Linked DNA regions of Homo sapiens. The protein of the gene in region 1 interacts with the protein of each later gene in a biochemical or structural test. Each region holds a gene or a part of one and is shown in the gene's direction. Other genes may lie near its edges. The genes, in order: PIAS1, HTT, SIAH2, MDC1, PML, L3MBTL2 and SUMO2.

Region 1 (3,500 bases):
TGTCATCTTTAGGAACTTAGAAGCAGGAGGGTGTGATGGCCAGATGATCTTGGTAGTTAATAAGCTGACAGCTTCATGAAACTCCTCTTAAAGTAATTTAAAAAAAAATATGTGTTTTTTTGGAGTAAAACTCAAACCAAGTTATAGTGCCATTTTAATTTACAGGAAGAAGAGTGGGAGAGAAGAAGTCCATCAGCATTTTAGTGGAGTAAATAATGAAATTAAATGGGAAGAGAAACCATAATTATAAAAGTTACTATGAGTGTGTCAGTGAATTCTATTGTTATTTTCTGCCTCTTTATTTTCAAGAAATAGCTACTTAATTTTGATCCTTACGCTGTAATTTGTCTGCTTTTATTTCAGATAGAGTCAAGTACATCTGATAGTTTATTCATGGATTTGATTTGAATCTCTATAACTTGCTTTTGTCAAGTGCCACATTTAGATGGCTTTTGTTTTATGTCATTATTTTTATCAACAGTATTTTAAAAACTCTACAGTATAGTTTATAAAATACTACGTATAGTTTCTAAGTATTTCATATGATTGTTTTGAAATACCTCCTTCTTTTCATCCACCGTTTTCTCCTGGGCGATCCCATTGTCTTTTTCTTCAAAGAGTTTCTTGTAATCCCTGTTGATTGCGGTAGTGCTTAGTGGCGAGTCCATAGCTGATTAACCTTGGGTGTCTCCTGGTGAACTCCATCAGCATGCTGCTCCAGGGTTCTTGCTGAGGCTTTTGAGTTTAGTGTAATTTGTACCCTTTTTTGCTGGTAACCAGGGATAAGAAAATAAAATGGCCAATGGTTGTAGCGGGAACTGGGAAAAAGTATCCAAGTCTCAGAAAAACTGGGTGTTTATGATGAGATGTAGCCTTTCAAAACAACAACCAAAAACGGATTCATTACTTCATAGAATTGATTGTGGTGTTTTCTGAAGTGTTTGACTCTGGCATGAAGCATCTTGCTTTTTTAATGTTTGAATAATAATATCTTACTTATATAGTACTTTGCAGTTCATAATATATTGCATTATCTCTTTTGATCTTTCCAACAGTTCTTTGAGGTAGGAAAGGCAAGTAATAACTAAATCCTTTTTATAGATAGAGAAAGTGAGCCCAGAAAGGGTACGTGACTATTGCAAGGTCATACAAATAAAAGTGGCAGGGACTTGAGCCTAGGTCTTGTGTAGTCCTCCTTAAAGGTCCTACAGCAGACCTGGAGTCCTCTAGGGTGCCCAGTTCACAGATTTCTACTTATGTTGTTGCTGATACTTTCCCTTTTGGAAAAGCTCTATGCTAGGGTATTTTTGGATATTCTAGGGCATTTTGCAAGCTTCCTTGCAAAAAGTTTGGAGTTTGTTAGTTGGAATCATACACATTAATTTTTGTAAGTATCATTTTGCTTGAGAAAATTTCAGAGAATCTGAGAAGTAAGCAGAAAAATAAACAGTACCTGTAATCCCAACACTCAGAGATATCATGGTTAACATCTGGGTATTTATCCACTTAAGACTTTCTCTCTGTGAGCATATGTATATGTATATTCATCATAAAAAGATACAACACTGTTTTTTATTTATAATCTGCTATTTTCATGTCTATCCAGGTTAGTAAATACAGGTCTATATGATCATTTGAAACCTTACATTGTGTTTTATTAAACTAGTCCCTGTCAGATTATTCTACTTTTTTTTTTTTTTTTTTTTTTGAGACGGAGTCTTCCTCTGTTGCCCAGGCAGTAGTGCAGTGGCGCGATCTCGGCGCACTGCAAGCTCCGCCTCCCGGGTTAACACCATTCTCCTGCCTCAGCCTTCGGTGTAGCTGGGACTACAGGTGCCCGCCACTACGCCCCGCTAATTTTTTTGTACGTTTTTAGTAGAGACGGCGTTTCACCGTGTTGGTCAGGATGGTCTCGATCTCCTGACCTTGTGATTTGCCCGTCTCGGCCTCCCAAAGTGCTGAGATTACAGGCGTGAGCCACCACCGCGCCAGGCCCAGATTATTCTCCTTTTTTTGCAGTGTGTTTGCAGACATGTACCAAAGTTTGCAGATGTTTTATTTTAACTAAATATATTGATATGACAGATCTTTTTTGTGCTTTAGAAAGCAATGCAGGACCGGATGCCATGGCTCACACCTGTAATACCAGCACCTTGGGAGGCTGAGGTGGGCGGATCACGAGGTCAGGAGTTGAAGACCAGCCTGACCAAGATAGTGAAACCCCGTCTCTACTAAAAATACAAAAAATTAGCTGGGCGTGGTGGTGGGCGCCTGTAATCTCAGCTACTCAGGAGGCTGAGGCAGGAGAATCGCTTGAACCTGGGAGGCAGAGGTTGCAGCGAGATTGCGCCACCGGACTCCAGCCTGGGCTACAGTGTGAGATTCCGTCTCAAACAAAAAAAAAAAAAAAAAAAAAGAAAGCAATACAAATGTTTATTTTATTTTTGTAGAGTCAGGGGTCTCACTGTGTTGCCCAGGCTGGTCTCAAATTCCTGGCCTCAAACAGTGCTGCCTCGGTTTCCCAAAGTGTTGGGATTACAGGTGTGAGACACTGTGCCTCTGTGCTCGGTTTTTACAGGTGTGAGGTACTGTGCCACTGCACCCACTCTACAAAATTAGCTAAAATGTTGTCAGTGAAATAAATTAGTCATTCTTGGTTTGTTCATTGTCATACCTTTATTGTTTATGTTTCTGTAATATGTGAGATAAGATTATTAAATGATGGCAGATACAGGTTTTACAAAATGTAAGCAAACATTACTTCAGCATCAGAATGTTTGATAAAGTATGAAATCGATTATGAAGTAGTATTTTATAATCTATTCATACTATTCTATGAATAGTAGAATTTCAAGTAGGCAAGTATGTTTGATTTTGGAAATTATATCACAGTGACCACATATTGCAAGTTTTTGTACCTTATTTAGATGCTTATCAGTTTTTTTTGTTTTGCTGGGATTACAGGTGTGAGCCACCACGCCCAGCTGATGCTTATCAGTTTTTAACTGGCATTTTAAAACTATATTGAACATTGCCAGACGTGGTAATCCCAGCACTTTGGGAGCCAAGGTGGACAGATCACGAGGTCAGGAGTTCGAGACCAGCCTGACCAACATGGTGAAACCCTATCTCTACTAAAAATACAAAAATTAGCCGGGCGTGGTGGTGCGCACCTGTAATCTCAGCTACTCAGGAGGCTGAGGCAGGAGAATTGCTTGAACCTGGGAGGCGGAGGTTACAGAGAGCTGAGACCGTGCCACTGTACTCCAGGCTGGGCGACAGAGTGAGACTCCGTCTCAAAAACAAACAAACAAAAAATCCCCCAAAAAACAAACACTATACTGAACATTAATATAGAGAAAATGGAAATAAGACTTTACCATATTTTTAATCTCAAAACAAAGTGTTGCCATTTAAATTGGGAGGTAACATAGTTTCAAGGATCCACAATCTCTGCCTCCGGGGTTCAGGCAATTCTCCTGCCTCAGCCTCCCGAGTAG
Region 2 (3,500 bases), on another chromosome or scaffold:
AGGATGAACTGTACACATCAGTTCATCCTTTTTAAATGAGCATGAGGTTATTTTGGGTTGTTAGGTGTTACAAACACACTAATGTGTTTTTGTCTATTAGAGCAGCATGGCCCAGTTGCCAATGGAAGAACTCAACAGAATCCAGGAATACCTTCAGAGCAGCGGGCTCGCTCAGAGGTAATGCTGGAAACACAGGTCGTCCTTGTGTTAGGACAACCCAGGATATAAAGGATATAGATTTGTACGGGAATAAATTCACAGGACAAGAAATCGATGTGCCTTATAGGTGGGTTTACTGCAGAAGTGCCATAATAGAACCTTCCTACTTTTAAAACAACCAGATCTCACTTTCTAAAGAGTAAAGGATGACCGGCAGGATCACGTCTGTGACGTGAGTGGAGGCAGTTTGCACTCCTGGTGGCTGTTTGAGAGGTAGCATTTAGAATGCCTGTATTCACTGTCCTGTGATGAGTGGGAAAATAGGTTATCAGGTTTATCTTAGCAAAATCAAAGCATGTCATCTAATTGCTAAACAAGAGTTGGCAAATCTGAGAGACATTACTCAATCCTTGGCATGCAGGACTTACATCTGCATCCTGTTGCCATTTTATGTCTTCAAAGCATTTAATCATTTAGTTGTGTTTGCAAAGTCTTTGAGAAGCCTTTGTCAGAAATCCCTACATCTCCTATGTGAGTGTATTTCCATGACTGCAGAATAAGTTAAACTTTTACCTTTTTCCTTCCCTTGCGGGGCGGGGTGGGGGGCAGGGATTGTGTGTGTGAGAGGGAGAGAGAGACAGCAGAGAAGGAGAATATAATTATCATGCTGTGTACTTTGAGCTGAAACTGCAAAAAAGGAAAAACACACAAAAATTATTATGCTTTTCAGTCTTTAGAGTACCTTGTCTATTATGCTTTTCAGTCTTTAGAGTACCTTGTTGATGGTGTTTTTAAATGGGATTGGGCACAATTAGGTGGACAGTTTGGGATGATTTTTCAGTCTGTAGGGCCAAGCTCTTTTGTAATTTGCATTATGAAGTTGTCACTCTCATAGCAGATGGCGGGAGATAAACTATTATTACTTTTTGACCCTAGACTTAGTCTTCAGTCCAGATGAGGGAGATTAAAAGATTATAAATATCTTGTGCCAGATGAGGTGATTTTATTTTGAAATGACCATGAATTCCTATCAGTTGTCTTACTGGGATATTTGATAGTGGAATTTGTGCATTTGAGTCTTAGATGATCTGTTTTACATTTATTAAGAAAGCCTTTATTAGCTTTTATACTGTGTATTGCCTGTTGCAGTGTTTGAGTATAAATGAAATTTCTGGAAAATATTAATGGAGTACAAACTGTGATACTTAAAAGTAAACTAGGGCCTGCATTTGTATCATGACCTGTTTGAGTATTGATGAGAAGATAGCTGTGAAGAAAAAGGTTTAAACAAGTGTATTTTCCTTTAAGAAGCCACTAATAGTGCATCTCCTTAGAGTGTATATTTCTAGAATCCTAGTGTGCAGAGTTTAGACTAAGACTAAAAAAAAAAAAAAACAAATTATACTGTAATTTCATTTTTATTTGTATTTTAGACACCAAAGGCTCTATTCCCTGCTGGACAGGTTTCGTCTCTCCACCATGCAAGACTCACTTAGTCCCTCTCCTCCAGTCTCTTCCCACCCGCTGGACGGGGATGGGCACGTGTCACTGGAAACAGTGAGTCCGGACAAAGTAAGTGTCCAGCGTGTCTGCATGGGAGGCACAGGGCGCTGAGTGCCTCTGTCACCTGTGGCAGATACAGAGAGTGCAGAGGAGGTGCCGTGGACCCAAGGAGTTCTGGCGCTCGGCTCGGCTCAGTGAAGCTGTGGTTAGAGACGTGGGGGGCCATCAAGGTCTGAGGGAGCCAAGCAGTGCTGATGTGGGACCCTTTTGGTAGGAGTGTGGGGTGAGTAGTTAGTGGGTGAATCAAGGAATAGTCGGCCGTGGCCTGCAGGCCCCTGACTGCACAGGCCTTCAAGCACATGTCAATGCCGTTAGCCTCCCTCCATCTCCTCATACCTTCTGGCCACCTGTGAGTTGCACTGCCACTGCCAGCCATTCTGGTATGTTGTCAGCACCTCCACTGCTCATACCTCATGGTTAGGGACCACCTGGAGCCTTGGTAGAGCCTTGGTAGAGCCTTGGTACTCTACTTTCCTGGACAAAGTTCAGCTTATGAATATGAATTTAGATTTCAAAAACCAGCAGCCCAAGTATAAGAAAGCGAAGGTTCAGTCCTGCCTTCTTAGGCTCTATTCGCTAAGCACCTGCCCTGCCCTGGTTGCTGGGGAGAGATGAGTAAAGCAGACAACCCAGGAGAGGATGGCAAAGGGGCCGCTAACCCTTAGTGGTTTAGCTATATTTGGAAGGCCTATTGGAAGTTCACCAGGTGAAGGGGGAGGCTGTGAGGGTGCCCAGGCAGGTAACAGAAGTCCAAAGGGGAAAACCTGTGGTGTGGTGAGCCGTATAGCCACAGCCTGCCGGCCGGCAGCCCTCTCAGCCTAGTGCGGTGTTCCCAAGCACTGGCCTAGGCCTGTAGCTCCAGGGATGTGAAGTCCCCTTGAACGCCGCCCATCATGTTCCCCTTATCCATTTTTTTCTTCCCAGGACTGGTACGTTCATCTTGTCAAATCCCAGTGTTGGACCAGGTCAGATTCTGCACTGCTGGAAGGTGCAGAGCTGGTGAATCGGATTCCTGCTGAAGATATGAATGCCTTCATGATGAACTCGGTACGGGGGGAGCAGTGGAGGCAAGGAATCCTCAGCTTTTCTTGTGACTTCCAAGTGGGATTTGTCTCATCATCATGTGACCCACTTGTTGACAACACATGTTGGGGACTCCAGTCTGGGCAGGGACGGGATGTCGGAGAGACTCCACTCTGAATGGGGCCGGGAAGTGGGGAGGACTCCATTTCAGATGGGGTCGGGACATGGGGGTTATGCTGATCGAGACAGAAAAGCACATTGTTTCAGCCACATTAGAATCCACGGAGGTGTTGTTTTGAAATCCAGCTGGCCCCAAGGCTGGGTGTATGGTTTGGGATGAGAACTATCTGGCCTCCACTGGAGGAACAAACACAGGATGTTATCATCTAAGCTCCATGGCCAAGACAGAATGGAAGTCAAGGTTGCGTATTTGCCGTAGACTTCAACACAGTGTCGTAATGCGTGACGTCAATAACTTGTTTCTAGTGTCTTGGAAGTTGATCTTTAGTCGTAAAAGAGACCCTTGGATGCAGCGAGATTTCCTCTACTCACACCTCTGTTAGATGTAGTGAGGTTCTTCACCCCCCAACCCCAGATGTCAGAGGGCACCCTGCGCAGAGCTAGGAGGCCATGCAAAGCCTTGGTGTCCCTGTCCCTCACCCGTGGGCAGGTCCTGTGAGCAGTGGGGGGGCCACCTCTTGGGTATGGTGCAGCCATGGCCCAAGCAGGGCTTCTTCTCAGACCTACTAGGACGG
Region 3 (2,772 bases), on another chromosome or scaffold:
CACCTGCCGCAGCCTACCCAAGTGCTGAGATTACAGGTGTGAGCAGCGCGCCTGGCCTCCTTGAGGTTTTATCCCCACTGTTTCCTCCACTCACCCTGTGCTAGAACCAGATGGAACAACTCCATCCACAATCCACTTGTCTACAATAAAGCTTTCCTTACCATGTCCTCCTCACCCTGTCCCACCTTGAAATCACCTGTTGCCCTCCTGGTCTTCCTTTACATAGTTGTTAAATTTATTATATGGTCTTTCTCAACTGGAAACACCACAAGGGCAGGATCCACAGCTGATTCCTTCTGTGTGCTCTAGGATAGAGGTTCTCAGCCCTGGAAACTCTTAGAAACCCTTGGAGCTCTTCAAGAAAACACAAGCCCAGGCTGGGCACAGTGGCTCAAGCCTGCAATCCCAGCACTTTGGGAGGCCGTGGCGGGTGGATCACGAGGTCAGGAGATCGAGACCATCCTGGCTAACACGGTGAGACCCCGTCTCTACTAAAAATACAAAAAATTAGCTGGGTGTGGTGGCAGGCACCTGTAGTCCCAGCTACTTGGGAGGCTGAGGCAGGAGAATGGCATGAACCCGGGAGGCGGAGCTTGCAGTGAACCGAGATCGCGCCACTGCACTCCAGCTTGGGTGACAGAGCAAGACTCCATCTCAAAAAAAAAAAAGAAAAGAAAACACAAGCCCAAGGCCAGGGGCCAGTGAGACTTGGCTTTGCTGCTCAGAAGCACCTAGACAGTTTTACATACAGTCTTGGGGAATTCACAAACTACTAAAGTCCTCCCTCGGATCCCTGGATGAGAGCCCCTGATGAAAGTGACAAAACACCCATGGTGCTCTGACATGCCATTCCAGAACAATGCCAAAACTGCTTGAAGTATGAAATGTGGGGTGTGTGTGTGTGTGTGTGTGTGTGTGTGTGTGTGTGTAGGGGGTTAAAATTTAGACTTTAGTCATCATAAAAGTGGCACCAGTTGTTATGAAGACATGAACCTTACCCATGATGGAAAGAGAAGGGATAGATTGCCATGAAAGTTCTGCTTGTTCAGTAAAAGCAGAGTAAGCACCTAAGGCTTTAAAACTATTTATTTAAGTTAATAGAGGATGTAGCAAGATCCTTATGAAAAAACATGAGATCGTTGTCCACACAAATGCAAAGTAATGCCTTTTCTATTTGTGCAGTTTGGGGAGGTTCCCTGTTCTGTATATTTGGGTGGAAAGAAGTGTTGAATATGTGATTTGTAAGGCAAATCAAATAATTCAGAGTATAAATACTCCTACTTGAGTGGGGAAAGTTATAAAATGATTGCCAAGTGATAAATATTTGCTGTAAATGTTGAGTTCGTCATGAATGAGGAGTGGTTTGGGACTTTGGGCAGAGGTGCAGCTGGTACCTTTCTGGGTGCCATTGGCCAAAGTTCATCTCATTCCTGGGCAGCTATGGGGAAAAGTTCGTCTTGAAACATCTTCAGATATTGAGAGCTTGTTTCGAGACTCTGCCAGGCTCTGGGCTATTTCTTGCTATTTTTATTGTGTGTGTGTGTTTTTTTAAACTGGACAGAAATGTCTCACCCATCACTCACAGAAGAACATGAGGAGGCTCTGTATTCCTAGCCACACCCTAGATTTAAAACACAGTTAATAGGGATTTGTTTTTCAGGCCTTATAAAGTAAGGAACACAAAGTATGAATACACATGGATAAATAAATTTGTTTCTCCTGAGTGAGTTTTTTTACAGCCAGGCTTTAGAAATTAGTTCAGAGTTTTAAAAGATGAACAAACAATTCCTATGGGCAAATAAGTAACTGAAATATTTCTGCCAATTTCTGTTAAATATTATAATCCGCTTAGGTATGGGGAAGTGGGGGTTGGAGGATGAGCTACATTTCTTTCTTTAAGCCACTCTCCTTTCCGATTAGGGGAGACTAATCCCCCTGAGAGTGGAGGCTGTCATCCTTGCTTCGGAATCCTCTGAGTGACTGTAACTTAGCGTCTTGTATGGAGAAGTCACATAGTGCATACCATCTGCTTGTTGCTAGTGATAAATTCATCTATGAAGGTTAGAATTTGACCGACTTCAAGTTTAAAAGGGGGATTATTCTATAAAGCAGGGTAGAGAGAAGCAAAAACAGCAGTGGTGCTTTTTTTTTTTTTTAGCAACTGGACATAGCATCTTAGAAAAATGACCTGGCCTTGCCCTTATTTGGTGCCTTCATGTCTCAGTGGAGCAGGGGAATCCAAGTGTAGTTAGCCAGACAGTTCCCCTGCCATTCTGTGCTCCAGGGGTCTAAGGCTGACACCTAGTTTCACCTGAAAAGGTGATTCAGGTTTCTTAATTCTTTACAGAACAGCTTAGTACTCAGGGCAGGTGTCTACTTGTGGGCTGATCTCCATCTGGTATCTAGGAATTAACACTGTCATCCTTGTGAGAGTCTGGAGTAGAAGTTCAGTTCCTCTTGGTGTGGTCTTTTGCCACGGCAGGTATGATTTATCCATTAGGAATGTCATCCCAAGTGCAAGGGAGAAAATGATTTTGTTCTCCTACCCTATTAAGGCAGTGTCTGAGGGGCAGACTGATCATGTCAGCAAACTTGTCTAGTTCTGCTTCCTCCCGGGCCTGTTGTGAGGACCTGACATACCTGACCATGAAATGATGTGCTCTTGAATCTGAGGAAGTGTTGGGGGTCAGCAAGCTTTGAGAGGAGGGTTAGGCCCTTCTCATGTTAACCTCTACTGGCCAGAACCAGACTGACCAGTAGTCTTCTGAGTTA
Region 4 (4,104 bases), on another chromosome or scaffold:
AATCCCAGCACATTGGGAGGCCCAGGCGGGAGAATCACCTGAGGTCCGGAGTTTGAGACCAGACTGACCAACATGGAGAAACCCCGTCTCTACTAAAAATACAAAATTAGCCGGGCGTGGTAGCGCATGCCTGTAATCCCAGCTACTCGGGAGGCTGAGACAGGAGAATTGCTTGAACCCAGAAGGCGGAGGTTGCGGTGAGTCGAGATCGCGCCATTGCACTCCAGCCTAGGCAACAAGAGCGAAAGTCCGTCTCAAAAAATAAAATATAGATGGCCGCATGCGGTGGTTTACGCCTGTAATCCCACCACTTTGAGAGGCCGAGGCGGGCGGATCACCTGAGGTCAGAAGTTCGAGACCAGCCTGACCAACATGGAGAAACCACGTCTCTACTAAAAATACAAAAATAAGCTGGGCGTGGTGGCGCATGCCTGTAATCCCAGCTACTTGGGAGGTTGAGGCAGGAGAATCGCTTGAACCTGGGAGGCAGAGGTTGCGGTGAGTCGAGATCGCGCCATTGCACTCCAGCCTGGGCAACAAGAGCAAAACTCCATCTCAAAAAATAGATAAATTAGTTAATTAAAAAATAAAAATAAATGATTTTATGATCCTTCCCTCGCCCCTCGAAAGGTGGGGACAGCCTTTAAGACAGAGAGCAAACCAGTTTTCTCTGTTCGACTACAGATCTTTAGGATCTTGGATTTAAGAAAATGACCTCAAAATGTCCGTCAGAGACGTATTCCCAGGAAGAAAGATATTACTTCTACTACAAACCAAATCAAAAGGAAATGAAATTCCAATGCAACAGGAGTGAACTGCCACGCCTACGGGCTGTTCTCCAAACTGCAGCCTCCAGCCACGACTGCAACGCGCAACCCACTTTCATTTCTCATGAGTCAGCGGACACCATGTCTAGGAGGACCGAGGAAAGGCGCTCTGGCCTTACCAGACACGTCGGACGTCTATGACACAGCCCCTCTATCCGTTGCCGGCAGCTGGCGCCAGACTCTCTGGTCGCGGTTTGGAACTGCGCGGGAAGTGGGTGGTGGGCGGGCAAGCGGTAGTGGGTTGTCCCTTGGAGCTGCCCAATCGACGTGCATTATTCTGTTGGCGCACGGCGGCCTTCAATTACCGTCTCATTAACTGATCTCAGCAGCCTGGGAGACACCACCTATTTGAACTCTAAGGGGGCGGGGCTTTGGGTGTGCCTCCGCTCGACTGGCTGCGGTTGTGAAAGACAGCGGCAGAAGCCAATCAGCAAATAAGCTCTTTTTCGGCACACGCAGTCGCTCCACCTGGGTCGCGACCGTTACTGGTGGCGCGCGCGGGGACTTAAAGTAGGTGAGTTCTAGGGGCCTGGCCCACGGCTCCCCGGGAGCCATCTTGGTTCCCCCAGAAGGCGGGAGGGGCGTACCTTGGGTGCGACTGGGCGGAGGTGACTTGGAAGTTCGCTTCTCGGACTGTAATACTCATCCTTACCTGGCGCCCCGCTCCGAGTTTAGGTATGAAGACACAGGGAGACGTCGGGCCACAAGGGAACCCACTGAGGTGGGGACCAAAGATGGTGGCTCTTTGAATTGGAGCCAAGCGTGGTGGGCACCCGCTGAGTTGGCCTGTCATAAAGACGGAGTTGACACTTTATCCATGGGGCATCCTACTTTCCCTACCTGTCAACAGTTTCCCTCTAGAGTGGCATATTTTCAGGTGAATTCCATTTATGCTATTTTCTTTCCATCTCATTTGTTCCTTCATCAGTAGGCTCGGTGATGAGCCTTCCCGAGGGCAGGGTCGATTTCATGTTTGGTTCACAGATGTATACCAAATACTTCAAACAGGTATACCATAACCATTGAATGAATATGATGGACCCTAGGGGAAAGACACGGTTCCCCTAATCCAGTCCTGGAGGTGGGTGAGTGTGAAGGCAGAAATGGAAAGTAATGGTTACAATATAGCGAGAGATCTTAGAGTAAGCACAAATCCATTGACCACTGTGGAACAGGCAGGATACACCAGGAACACGAGAAGGCAGGGAACACGCCAGGAAAGGGTTTGCTGAGAAAGTGACATTTGAGGCCGGGCGCGGTTGCTCACTGCTGTAATCCCAACACTTTGGGTGGCCAAGGTGGGCGGATCACCTGAGGTCAGGAGCTCGAGACCGTGGTGAAACCCCGTCTCTACTAAAAATACAAAAATTAGCCAGGCGTGATGCCGGGCGCCTGTAATCCCAGCTGCTCGGGAGGCTGAGGCAGGAGAATCGCTTGAAGCCTGGAGGCAGAGGTTGCAGTGAGCCAAGATAGCACCACTGCAGTCCAGCCTGGACGACAGAGCGAGATTCCATCTCAAAAAAAAAAAAAAGAAAGAAAGTGACATTTGAACTGAATCTTAAAGGATGGTAGAAGTTGGACCAGAAAACTAGGTGGGAAAAAGCCAAGGAATTGGGCTAAGGCATGAAGATGTGGGAAGACAAGAACAGTGTGTTCGAAGACTGGGGAAAATGTCTGGCTGAACCATAGGCTTTTGCGGGCGAGGGGTAGGCGTTACAAGATGTGAAGTTCAGATCATGGAGGGTCTCGCTAAGGAGTTTAGATTTTATTCTGTGTGCACGAAAAACCATCAAGATTTTAGAGGAGAGACATCTGAGTGATTTGGGGCAAGTCTTAACCTTATATATGCTTATGTATGTTTCAAGGAGATCTGAAAATCTTAACCCAGCTATGTTGCAGTTTCTTTATCTGAAGAAATGGAAGATAGTAATACTACTTTACAAGGTTCTTGTGAAGATTAAATGAGTCAGAGTCGATATAAAGTAATTAGAACAGTGCTTGACACATAGGAAGCTTCTATATATGTCATCTTTTATTATCATTTTTTGCAGTTGCATCTGATCAAACTGAGGTGGTCTGGTAAAAGTATAAAAAGCATGGGCTAAAAAAGAAAGAAAAACAACGGGGCGCAGTGGCTCACGCCTGTAATCCCAGCACTTTGGGAGGCCAAGGTGGGCGGATCACCCAAGGTCAAGAGTTCGAGTCCACCCTGGCCAATATGGCAAAACCCCATCTCTTCTAAAAATACAAAAATTAGCCAGGCATGGTGGCAGGTGCCTGTAATCTCAGCTACTTGGGAGGCTGAGGTGAGAGAATTGCTTGAAACCCGGGAGGCAGAGGTTGCCGTGGGCCCAAGATCTTACCACTGCATGCCAGCCTGGGGAGCAGAACGAGACTCCATCACAAAAAAGAAAAAAATGTTTTAAGTGCTTCAGAAGGTTAACAACAGAAAGATTGGTGGAAAGAGAAGCATCAACGTTCATAATGATCCAGTTTACCCCCTAGTTTTCAGTCTGATAACTCTGATGCTGTTTGTGTGAACCAATAATGAGGATAATTGATAATGTGTATCCTTCCCAGATCATGGAGGACACCCAGGCTATTGACTGGGATGTTGAAGAAGAGGAGGAGACAGAGCAATCCAGTGAATCCTTGAGGTGTAACGTGGAGCCAGTAGGGCGGCTACATATCTTTAGTGGTGCCCATGGACCAGAAAAAGGTCAGAGGGTATTGGATGTTCAAGTATTGATATAGATCTTTTATTTTTGTGGTAAGGTATTTGGAGGGTTGCAAGAAGCTTATGTATGTTTCAATGAGATGTGAATTTTTTTTTTTCATGAATGGAAGAGATGGGGCCGATTGAGTTGATAGTTGCAGACTACTACCCTGGACTCACTGGAAGTGATTTTACTTTGATAAAAGAAAATTAAGAGATTGAAATGAAGCTGGGTGCAGTGACTCACACCTGTAATTCCCGTGCTTTGAGAGGCCAAGGCAGAAGGATCACTTGAGACTAGGAGTTAGAGACCAGCCTGGGTAGCATAGCAAAACCCTGTCTCTACGAAAAATTTAAAAATTAGCCAGGTGTGGTGGTTCATTTCACATCTGCAGTCCCACCTACTTGGGAGGCTGAGCCAGATGATCACTTGAACCCAAGAGTTCAAGATTGCACTGATCTATGATCATGACACTGCATTCTAGCCTGGGTGACAGAATGAGACCCTGTCTCAAAAAAAAAAAAAAAATCAAATAAAATCCAATTGTGTGCTCTGGAGAT
Region 5 (3,500 bases), 6.0 Mb from region 1:
TGCCTAACCAAAGTCAAGAACCACTGAATCGGGGGATTCATTGCATGTCTGTGGTAGAGGAATGCTGCTCATTTGTTTATAGATGTGGCAGTCTTGAATGCAGGTGACATTTTCATACCAGGGTGTAATACCGCAGAGGAGGGGAGAGGCTGGATCTTCCCTGATGTACCTCCTGGACTTTTGGAGTGTGATTACAATGCCAATCCAGCCACTTCCTCTGAGCATGCTTGGGACGACTGTTAGACCTGCTGTGTTGAGTTAGAATGCACTTGACCTGCTCAGGCCGTGAAATCTATGAGGAAGGGGAGTGAGATGGATGTAGCTCATGAGCCAGATTGCAGGTGTATCCAAGTTGCATGTATATCCTGAAAAAATCCTGGCTCTCACGAGGCTCAGCCTGAACACAGTTTTGCATTCAAAGAAACAATGTCCATTAACCAAGTATAATAAAGAAATAAATCCCAGTATTTACTTGCATCTTTTGAAAGAACATTAAAGGGAATCCAGCTCATAACCCCAGCAGCACTTCTTCAGTCCTTCTTCCCCTTTTCTTTGGCGCCTGGCATCTCTCACTGCATAGCAAAGCTTTCCCCCTTGATTCCCGGTCCTCACACGCAGGCTCAAGGCTCTGTTTCCCATCTTCTTTCTTCTGTCCCCCTTCCTTTTCTCTTCCAAGCAAATCTAAGTCTTTTCCAGTGACTGTCCCTCTCTATGCTCCCCCGACACCCAGTTATCCTAATTTGCGGAATAAGGCCAAGGTGTGGGGCCTGGGGGCAGAATGGGAGAGTCTCCCCTAGTGAGCAGGGAGGGGAGTATGTTCTGCACCAGGCCACTATGTCTGATGGCCCTGCTGGCAAACCTGAGTCTTTCAGAAAGTCTTGTTTAAATGCGTCAGCACTCCCCAGCTGTGATGCTGGAGTTTAAGGCGGAGCAGGGGAGAATTCTGGGTTTACAGCTGGCTGGAGTTCCAGTGAGACCAGCTCCATGGGTGGCCATACTTTATGGAAGTCCCCAAGGGCAAGAGGAATTTTGGAGGAAGTGAGTCAGGGCTGAAAGGTCCAGCCTCTCCTCCATTAACAAGCTTGGTGGAAAGGGGGTGTCCTTTTATTAAAGGAGACAGTAGAGGTTTCTTAGAGAAGGCAGCTCGAGTAAGTTTAGGACAAAGGACATTTCCCTGGCCCCGGGACAATGGAAGGCTCTAAAAACGAGGTTCTAGTGGCTGCCATAAATGACCCTGCTGTAACGATGGGAGGGGTGGCCTAAAGAGACAGTACTGTGGCTCTCCAGGGAGCTCTCCTCTTGGAAGAGCAGATCTGAAGGCGGGAAGACTGGTTCTAAGGCCGAGGACATTGCCCCGAGCTTTGTGGAGGCACTCAGGAACACAAAGGGGCATTTCCAGTTGGGTTTGGAGCAGGAAGAAGAACGAAAAAGAGAAAGTCCTGTGTGCCATGTCAGTGGGTGGCAGCATGGACTCAGCCTCAGCTATTGGCACCAAGGATCTGAACCAGGGAGGACCCAGAAGGGGAGCCCAGCCCCTCCACCAGCTTGTGGGAGAGCGCTGCTGCCCAGTGAAGCCTGGAGAGAGGAAACAACTGGATTCTCCCAAAGCGGGAGAAGGTGGAGTCTCCAGCCACCCAGCTACAAGCTAGGAAGACGCCTTGTAGAAGGCTCCTTACAGGGAGGAAACCGAGTTGGAAAGGCGAGACAGCAGTGTGGGCTCACCCGGAGCAAGACGTGTGAAATCAGCTTTTGACAGCGTGGCTGAATGAGGATCTGGAGATGCGAGGCGCTGGGCAGACTCTCTGACTAGATCCCTGGATATGAAGAGGCAAAGCCAGCTCTAGATGGATTCATAGTGAGTGTCTGCTTCTGACAATAACTGGCAGAAAGCTGATGAGCCTGGAGCAGGGCTGTGAAATGCAAATCCAGTGAAATCCAGCCACTCCTACAAAAACCCACCACATCTTAGGTTACTTGTGGGTGGAAACGCTTTTTCTCTCAGTTGAAGCTTGGTTGGAAGCAGATGTTTCACTTGGGCATTGGAAGGGTCTGGGGAAATGTGCTGCCTCCTAGGCCAGGGACATTAGCCAGAGGCCAGAATTAACTGAGGCTTTAGCACCAGGTGACACCAACTTCATTGAGAAGCCAGCGGCAGTCCATAAAGAGGAAAAACCCAAGGCCTGCCCTGGACTCTGTCCCAGCCATGCTCCCAATTGGCCCTGTGATCCTGTCCATGTCTCTTCCTTGCTGGTCTCTGGCTAACGTCCACAGGTGGCATTCATGGGAGGTTCCAAGTTGGTCATCAAAGACTAAACATCTGGGCTTGGCAGCTGAGCAGATGATAAGCAATTAACTCTGTATTACCATCAGAGGCTCCACCTCCCTCTGTAGTCCCAGTCCCTTGGGAAAATCTCAGAGCTGGAGCCCTTCCCTCATCCTCTGGCTCCCCACCCCATGGCTTCTCGAACAGTGTTCCCACCAGGACCTTGGGACAGGAGAGAACGCCTCACCTGAAGGACTCCCAAAACTCAGGTTTCTCTAAGCTGCTGGGGCAGATGCCAAGAGCCTCCACTGCTCTCTCACTGCCAAGGACCTGGGTGTCCACCTAGATGTGGCCTTCAGGAGGCCAAGCAGTCCTTCCCCTCGCCTTTGTGTAGGACACTGGCACCTCGGCTGACTTCGGGGACAAGAAAAGGCAGGCTCCCGACCCCTTCCAAAGAATCATCTGGGGTTCAAGATGAGGCTTCTTTCTCCCGTCCCAAGTTTTGGTGTTTCTTCTGAGTCTGCTCAGAAAGATGAAATTAGGAGCAGACATCTCAGGTCCTGCCTGCCATAGCAGATGGCTCCTTCCCTGAGCCTCCATAAGCAGCACAGCACACTCATGCACACACCCACTGGCATTTTCTCTCACACTTTCATACACTTGTGTCAACGCAGGTTCACAGCTCACACTTAACTGTGCATGCACACACAGATTTAGCACTTGGATTCATTCCCACACATGCACGTTCACAACCTGTGTGTGTCACCCTTCCTCCCCTACTCATGAGGGTGTATGCCCTGGTTCATACATGTAACCCTCACATGTGACACACCCAGTTCACACCCATTCATGCACACATACCTTCTCTTGTGCACACGTCCCCTTTCCCAGTGGTACACCCTCCTTCATGTGCACGCAGATGCTCCCAGCTATACCAGCTTGCTAGTGTTCTGCACAGGTGCTTGCCTTGGCCCTCTGAATCCCTGACGCTTGGTTTTTCTGTGTTGCAGTCCTCCCGAGAGCTGGATGACAGCAGCAGTGAGTCCAGTGACCTCCAGCTGGAAGGCCCCAGCACCCTCAGGGTCCTGGACGAGAACCTTGCTGACCCCCAAGCAGAAGACAGACCTCTGGTTTTCTTTGACCTCAAGATTGACAATGAAAGTGGGTTCTCCTGGGGCTACCCCCACCCCTTTCTAATTTAGTCTCTGAGTCCCAAAAAGAAGTGCAGGCAGAGCCA
Region 6 (3,500 bases), on another chromosome or scaffold:
TAGAGATGGGGTGTGGCTGTGTTGCCAAGGCTGGTCTCAAACTCCTGGGTTCAAGCAATCCACCTGCCTCAGCCTCCCAAAGTGCTGGGATTACAGATGTGAACCACCGTACCCAGGCTCTTCACACGTTTTCTGTTACATGCTGGGTAGATTCATATACATTATCTCATTTGCATCTCACGAGTCAAATATTTTTATTTTATAGATGAGAAAGTTGAAGCCCACAGAAGTTAAATGACTTGCCCAAGGCCCTATAGCTAGTTAGGCTCAGAGCTGAATCTAGCGCTGTAGTACACACCAAGATGCCACAGTTATCTGTGTGTCATCTGCCTCTCCCATCCTCTTTGGAGCAGTCTAGGTCCCAAATTAACTTTTCTGTGACTTAAATTGTTTCTGAGTTGAGATCATTTTGATGTATATTGAACGGGGAAGAATTTTTGTTTTTCTTTTTGAGACAGCATCTCACTCCATTACCAGGCTGGAGTGCAGTGGCGCGATCTTAGCTCGCTGCAACCTCCACCTCCCGGGTTCAAGCAATTCTCTGCCTCAGCTTCCCAAGTACCTGGGATTACAGGCACCCGCCACCACACCCAGCCAATTTTTGTATTTTTAGTAGAGACGGGGTTTCACCATCTTGGCCAGGTTGGTCTTGAACTCCTGACTTCGTGATCCACCCACCTTGGCCTCGGAAAGTGCTGGGATTACAGGTGTGGGCCACTGTGCCTGGCTAAGAATTAATTTCTAATATATCTTCTACCCCAGAAAGTCTTTGTGAAGTACCTTAGGATATTTCACTTTTTTTTTTTTTTTGAGATGGAGTCTTGCTCTGTCACGCAGACTGGAGTGCAGTGGCACGATCTTGGCCCACTACAACCTTTGCCTCCTGGGTTCAAGCAATTCTCTGCCCCAGCCTCCCAAGTAGCTGGACTACAGGTGCCCGCCACCACGCCTGGCTAATTTTTTCTTGTATTTTTTTGTAGAGACAGGGTTTCACCCTCTTGGCCAGGCTGGTCTCGAACTCCTGACCTCAGGTGATCTGCCAGCCTCGGCCTCCCAAAGTGCTAGGATTACAGGCATGAGCCACCGCACCTGGCCCACATTGTTATACAGTATTCTATTTGAACCATGTTAAAATATCATCATTTGTAAATCCACAGAGGAGCCTGGTGAATTCCTAACACATATTTTCTGTCTTGTTAAGCTGTTGAATTGCATCATGGTGGAGAAATGTGTAAATAGAAGTAATGATCTTGGTGTTTGTAAAAGGGGTATTTGAAAGGTTCCCGAAAGTGTGAGGGGGCTGATAGCAGATCTGCAGCTTCTCCCCCCGTGCACTAAAGCCAATCATAATTCTTTCTACCTGGTTTGTGTCATCCTCCATTAGGAGACCCCATCTTCAGAACCAATGGAGGAAGAGGAAGATGACGACTTGGAGCTGTTTGGTGGCTATGATAGTTTCCGGAGTTATAACAGCAGTGTGGGCAGTGAGAGCAGCTCCTATCTGGAGGAGTCAAGTGAAGCAGAAAATGAGGATCGGGAAGCAGGGGAACTGCCGACCTCCCCGCTGCATTTGCTCAGCCCTGGGACTCCTCGCTCCTTGGATGGCAGTGGTTCTGAGCCAGGTGCCTTCAGAGTGTCCCCTGAGGATGGAGAGGAGATAGAAGATTATAGAGGAAGAGGGGGGTGGATATAGGCTATATGGGCAGAGCCATCCAGATGTAAAAGGCTATTAACTCTGATTTCTAAGGGATCAGATGTGTAAGGACCTGTAAGGGAGACAGAAGCACCCCAAGTAGCCACTGTGTTAACTTCCTTTGCTGAAGTCTAATTTCTTTTTTTTTTTTTTTTTTTTTTTGAGACTTGAGTGTCGCCCTGTTGCTCAGGATGGAGTACAGTGGCATGATCTCGGCTCACTGCAACTTCCACCTCCTGAGTTCAAGTGATTCTCATGCCTCAGCCTTCCAAGTAGCTGGGACTACAGGCACCCACCACCACATCCAGCTAACTTTTGTATTTTTTTGTTTGTTTGTTTGTTTGAGACGGAGTCTCGCTCTGTTGCCTAGGCTGGAGTGCAGTGGCGCGATCTCGGCTCACTGCAAGCTCTGCCTCCCGGGTTCACACCATTCTCCTGCCTCAGCCTCCTGAGTAGCTGGGACTACAGGCGCCCGCCATGACGCCCGGCTAATTTTTTGTATTTTTAGGAGAGACAGGGTTTCACCACGTTAGCCAGGATGGTCTCGATCTCCTGACCTCGTGATCCACCCGCCTCGGCCTCCCAAAGTGCTGGGATTACAGGCGTGTGCCACCGCGCCAGCCTAACTTTTGTATTTTTAGTAGAGGCGGGGTTTCACCATGTCGGCCAGGCTGGTCTCAAACTCCTGAACTCAGGTGATCCACCCACCTCAGCTTCCCAAAGTGCTGGGATTACAGGAGTGAGCCACTGTGCCCGGCCCTAGTCTAATTTCAAATTGTGACTTCACTCATTCTTTCATATAACTAATGTGTATTCAGCACAGATTAGATGCCACTGAGTAGCATGGTGCTGCTTTTTTGTATAAGTATACCATGGATTTCCAACGTGGATGTTGAGAAGATAGGAAACCTAAAGTGTTTTGGTTACTTTCTGAGAAGGGACAAATAACTTGTGGTTTGGAAGTCAGGGTGGGAGTGGGAAGGTAATACACGATAAAGTGACCCTGGGTAGGAGGACTGGGTTGGGGGCGGGCAGATGAGAATCCCTATGGATCATCTGGAAGCCAGTTGACTTTGGAAATGTGATGCTTGGACAGCTGCTGAACCCCTGTGTCAGGGCCTCCCATGTGTGGGCTGCCTGTGAAGAGAGGCAGGCTGGATAGTCTGTGAGGACACTGCCATCCTTTAGATCCCAAACTTTTTTTGTTTTATTTTGAGGCAGGGTCTCACTCTGTCACCCTGGCTGCAGTGCAGTGGTGTGAAAATGGCTCACTGCAGCCTCGACCTCCTGGGCTCAGGCAATCCTTCCACCTCAGCCTCCTGAGTAGCTGAGACTACAGGTGCACGCCACCATGCCTGGCTAATTTTTGTATTTTTTTTTTGTAGAGACAGGGGTTTTGCCCTGTTACCCAGGCTGGTCTTGAACTCCCAAGCTCAAGTGATCCCCCACCTCAGCCTCCCAAAGTGCTAGGATTACAGGCATGAGCCACCGCACCCAGCCCCAAACTCGTTAGAAGAGTAATCTAATACTCTTTGCAGTTGAATCTTATTTCCTTTTTTTTTTTTTTTTTGAGACGGAGTCTTGCTCTGTCACCCAGGCTGGAATGCAGTGACATGATCTTGGCTCACTGCAAGTTCCGCCTCCCAGGTTCAAGCCATTCTCCTGCCTCAGCCTCCCCAGCAGCTGGGACTACAGGCGCCTGCCACCACACCCGGCTAATTTTTTTTGTATTTTAGTAGAGACGGGGTTTCACCATGTTAGCCAGGATGGTCTCGATCTCCTGACCTTGTGATCTGCCCTCCTCGGC
Region 7 (3,500 bases), on another chromosome or scaffold:
ATTTTCAGTAGAGGCGGGGTTTCACCATATTGGCCAGGCTGATCTTGAACTCCAGACCTCAGATGATCTGCCTTGGTCTCCTAAAGTGTTGGAATTACAGTGTGAGCCCCCGAGCTCAGACTGGAGTCTTTAAATGGGCATTTTTTTCCTTTAAATTTCCTGTTAGTGGCCAGCCAGGCGGATCACGAGGTCAGGAAATTGAGACCATCCTGGCTAACACGGTGAAACCCCATCTCTACTAAAATACAAAAAATTAGCCCAGCATGGTGGCATGAGCCTGTAGTCCCAGCTACTGAGGAGGCTGAGGCAGGAAAGTCACTTGAACTCCGGTGGTGGAGGTTGCGTTGAACTGAGATTGTTCCACTCACTCCAGCCTGGGCGACAGAGCGAGACTCCATTTAAAAAAAAAAAATTTCATTTCCTTGTCTAACTCATTTAAATGCATATTTGTCTCAAGGTATGTTCTATTTAACATTATAGTAGCTGTGTCTGAAAAGCAGTAAAGCTTTCTAAAAGAATGACTTACTGGCTGGGCGCAGTGGCTCACACCTGTAATCCCAGCGTTTTGTGAGGCTGAGGTGAGTGGATCACTTGAGGTCAGGAGTTCGAGATCAGTCTGGCCAACATGGTGAAACCCTGTCTCTACTAAAAACACAAAAATTAGCTGGGCATGATGGCAAGCGCCTGTAATCCCAGCTACTCGGGAGGCTGAGGCAGGAGAACCACTCGAACCCAGGAGGCGGAGGTTGCAGTGAGCCAAGATCGCACCACTGCACTCCAGCCTGGGCGACATAGCAAAACTCTGTCTTAACAAACAAACAAAAACAACAACAACAAACAGGCCGGGCACAGTGTCTTATGCCTGTAATCCCAGCACTTTGGGAGGCTGAGGTGGTCAGATCATCTGAGGTCAGGAGTTCGAGACCAGCCTGGCCAACATGGCGAAACCCTGTTTCTACTAAAAAATACAAAAATTAGCCAGGCATGGTGGCGCCTGCCTAGTCCCAGCTAATCAGGAGGCTGAGGCAGGAAAATTGCTTGAACCCAAAAGGTGGAGGTTGCAGTGAGCCGAGATCGCGACACTGCCCTCCAGCCTGAGTGACAGAGCAAGACTCTGTCTCAAAAAAAAAAGAAAAGGAAAAAAAATACTACATCTTACTGTTCACTGAAAATGAGAGGCTGGGCACCATGGCTCACTCCTGTAATCCCAGCACTTTGGGAGGCTGAGGCGGACGGAGCACCTGAGGTTAGGAGTTCGAGACCAGCCTGGCCAACCTGATGAAACCCAGTCTCTACTAAAACTACAAAAATTAGCCGGTTGTTGTGGCGGGGGACCGTAGTCCCAGCTACTCTTGGGAGGCTAAGGCAGAAGAATCGCTTGAACCAGGAGGTGTAGGTTGCCTTGAGCTGAGATCACGCCACTGCACTTCAGCCTTGACAACAGATCAAAACTGTCTCAAAAAAAAGAAAATGAAAATCACCCCAAATCTTTTTACCTATAGGGTATGTTAACATGTTGGCAATTGTTTATTTAGGTATTTCTTTAATATATTCATGGTTAAATATGCATGTACTTTTATGTAAATAGAATTCTGTTTCTCTTAATGCTGTTTATTGCTTTTAAATTCTCGTTCAGGGATTGTCAATGAGGCAGATCAGATTCCGATTTGACGGGCAACCAATCAATGAAACAGACACACCTGCACAGGTAAAAAAATCTCTCCTAATTAGAAAAATTACCATTTGTAATTCTTTGAACAGCTGTGTTTATGAATTTGAACGTTTAGACACTGGAGTATAAGTTCTTGTAGAGTTCAGAGCTTTGGGAAGTATGACCAGAGGGGAACAGAAAGGAAAATAGGAATAGGCTCAGGAAATGCCAATGGTTTTTATTCATTTATTTTTAATTTTCATTTTAATTATTTTTTTAGGGACAGGGCCTCTCTGTTGCCCGGGTTGAAGTGTAGTGGCCTCATTATAGCTCACTGCAGCCTTGGCCTCCCAAAGTGATGGGATTATAGGCACGAATCAATGTGCCCAACCCCACCAGTGGTTTGTGTTTGTTTTTTGTGACGGAATCTCACTCCATCGCCCAGGCTTGAGTACAGTGTCACGATCTTGGGTCATGGCAGCCCTCGCCTGCCATGCTTAAGCAATTCTCCTGCCTCAGCCTCCCAGAGTAGCTGGGATTACAGGCATGCACCACCATGCCTGGCTAATTTTTGTATTTTTGGTAGGGATGGGGTTTCACCATGTTGGCCAGGCTGGTCTTGAACTGCTGACCACAAGTAATCCGCCCGCCTTGGCCTCCCAAAGTGTTGGGATTGACAGGTGTGAGCCACCGCACCCAGCCAAATCCTCACCATTTTAGTTCTACATGCTGAATTGAAATTCTCTTTTACGTGTCTTCATGAACAAAAAGGAACTAATAGCCCTAATTGCCACGTCCCATAGCTTTGTTTGACAGGGAGAGCCCCTGATAATAGGAGATTTTCCAGATCCTTACTACAAAACGTGATGCTCTCTGATCCTTTAACTCTTTATGTACCACTTCATTTTGTTCTGTCACTTTCTGTAGGATCAGCTGGATTGTCTTCTGTGGCAGAAGCTCTTTGTTTCTTTTTACCCTTTCAAAGTTCCATTAAATACTTCCAGTTTTGTCCTAGCAGGGTGGCTCATGAGAGCCATTTTCAAGATTACAAAGTGCTTGTAATGCCAGCACTGTGACGCCAAGGTGGGCGGAGCACTTGAGTCCAGGATTTCAAGACCAGCCTGGGCAACATGGCAAAACCCTCTCTTTACAAAAAAATACAAAAATTAGCCAGGGAGCAGTGGTACGTGCCTGTAGTACCAGCTACTTCTTAGGGTGAGGTGGAAGGATTGCTTGAGCCCAGGAAGTGGAGGCTGCCGTCACCCAAGATGGTACCACTGCACACCAGCCTGGGTGACAAAGTGAGGCCCTCTCTCAAAAAAAAAAAAAAATGACTTCCAGTCTTGTCCTGACTTGGTGGCTCACACCTGTAGTCCTATCACTTTAGGAAACTGACACTGGCAGGAGGGTTGCTTGAGGCCAGGAGTTTAAGACCAGTCTGGGCAATATAGCAAGACCTGGTCTCTACAGGAAAGAAAAAGAGCTGGGCATGGTAGCATGTGTCTGTAGTCCCAGCTTCTTGGGAAGTTTAGTGGGAGGGGTGCTTGAGTCCAGGAGTTTCAGGCCGCAGTGAGTTATGATCATACTACTGCACTCCAGCCTGGGCGATAGAGCAAAACTCTGTCTCAAAAATAGAAGACTTACAGTTTCTGAAACATATTTTACAATGTTGTGATAGTAGAAATTTAAATTGGATCCCATGTACTTTTGAATTTCAACTTTATCACCCAGTAAAAACTAGAAAGTGATAAATGTGGCATGAAGCAGCACATCCAGATTGTAGTTTTGTTGATAATCTTTGAAAATTGGAAAAGCCCCTGAGTTGTACTGAAAAGAAGAATATTTTGAA

What was found.
Region 2: the proteins of PIAS1 (region 1) and HTT form a complex in vitro, tested with the Homo sapiens proteins (one study listed by BioGRID).
Region 3: the proteins of PIAS1 (region 1) and SIAH2 form a complex in vitro, tested with the Homo sapiens proteins (one study listed by BioGRID).
Region 4: of the proteins of PIAS1 (region 1) and MDC1, one has a biochemical effect on the other in vitro, tested with the Homo sapiens proteins (one study listed by BioGRID).
Region 5: of the proteins of PIAS1 (region 1) and PML, one has a biochemical effect on the other in vitro, tested with the Homo sapiens proteins (one study listed by BioGRID).
Region 6: of the proteins of PIAS1 (region 1) and L3MBTL2, one has a biochemical effect on the other in vitro, tested with the Homo sapiens proteins (one study listed by BioGRID).
Region 7: the proteins of PIAS1 (region 1) and SUMO2 form a complex in vitro, tested with the Homo sapiens proteins (4 studies listed by BioGRID).

The regions. Positions count from the first base shown.
Region 1 is NC_000015.10:68,057,315-68,060,814, forward strand, and holds part of PIAS1 (E3 SUMO-protein ligase PIAS1), read left to right. Parts: intron 1-165; exon of another isoform or gene 166-215; coding exon of another isoform or gene 216-266; intron 267-3,500. UniProt on the Homo sapiens protein: Functions as an E3-type small ubiquitin-like modifier (SUMO) ligase, stabilizing the interaction between UBE2I and the substrate, and as a SUMO-tethering factor. Catalyzes sumoylation of various proteins, such as CEBPB, MRE11, MTA1, PTK2 and PML.
Region 2 is NC_000004.12:3,207,181-3,210,680, forward strand, and holds part of HTT (huntingtin), read left to right. Parts: intron 1-100; coding exon 101-177; intron 178-1,592; coding exon 1,593-1,731; intron 1,732-2,646; coding exon 2,647-2,769; intron 2,770-3,500.
Region 3 is NC_000003.12:150,743,398-150,746,169, reverse strand, and holds part of SIAH2 (E3 ubiquitin-protein ligase SIAH2), read left to right. Parts: intron 1-2,772. UniProt on the Homo sapiens protein: E3 ubiquitin-protein ligase that mediates ubiquitination and subsequent proteasomal degradation of target proteins.
Region 4 is NC_000006.12:30,714,482-30,718,585, reverse strand, and holds the start of MDC1 (mediator of DNA damage checkpoint protein 1), read left to right. Parts: upstream 1-1,304; 5' UTR 1,305-1,341; exon of another isoform or gene 1,342-1,644; coding exon of another isoform or gene 1,645-1,704; intron 1,705-2,878; exon of another isoform or gene 2,879-2,998; intron 2,999-3,407; coding exon of another isoform or gene 3,408-3,410; coding exon 3,411-3,546; intron 3,547-4,104. UniProt on the Homo sapiens protein: Histone reader protein required for checkpoint-mediated cell cycle arrest in response to DNA damage within both the S phase and G2/M phases of the cell cycle.
Region 5 is NC_000015.10:74,039,716-74,043,215, forward strand, and holds part of PML (protein PML), read left to right. Parts: intron 1-3,273; coding exon 3,274-3,424; coding exon of another isoform or gene 3,425-3,465; exon of another isoform or gene 3,466-3,500.
Region 6 is NC_000022.11:41,208,312-41,211,811, forward strand, and holds part of L3MBTL2 (lethal(3)malignant brain tumor-like protein 2), read left to right. Parts: intron 1-810; exon of another isoform or gene 811-1,384; coding exon 1,385-1,622; exon of another isoform or gene 1,623-1,640; intron 1,641-3,500. UniProt on the Homo sapiens protein: Putative Polycomb group (PcG) protein. PcG proteins maintain the transcriptionally repressive state of genes, probably via a modification of chromatin, rendering it heritably changed in its expressibility.
Region 7 is NC_000017.11:75,172,960-75,176,459, reverse strand, and holds part of SUMO2 (small ubiquitin-related modifier 2 isoform a precursor), read left to right. Parts: intron 1-1,636; coding exon 1,637-1,708; intron 1,709-3,500. UniProt on the Homo sapiens protein: Ubiquitin-like protein that can be covalently attached to proteins as a monomer or as a lysine-linked polymer.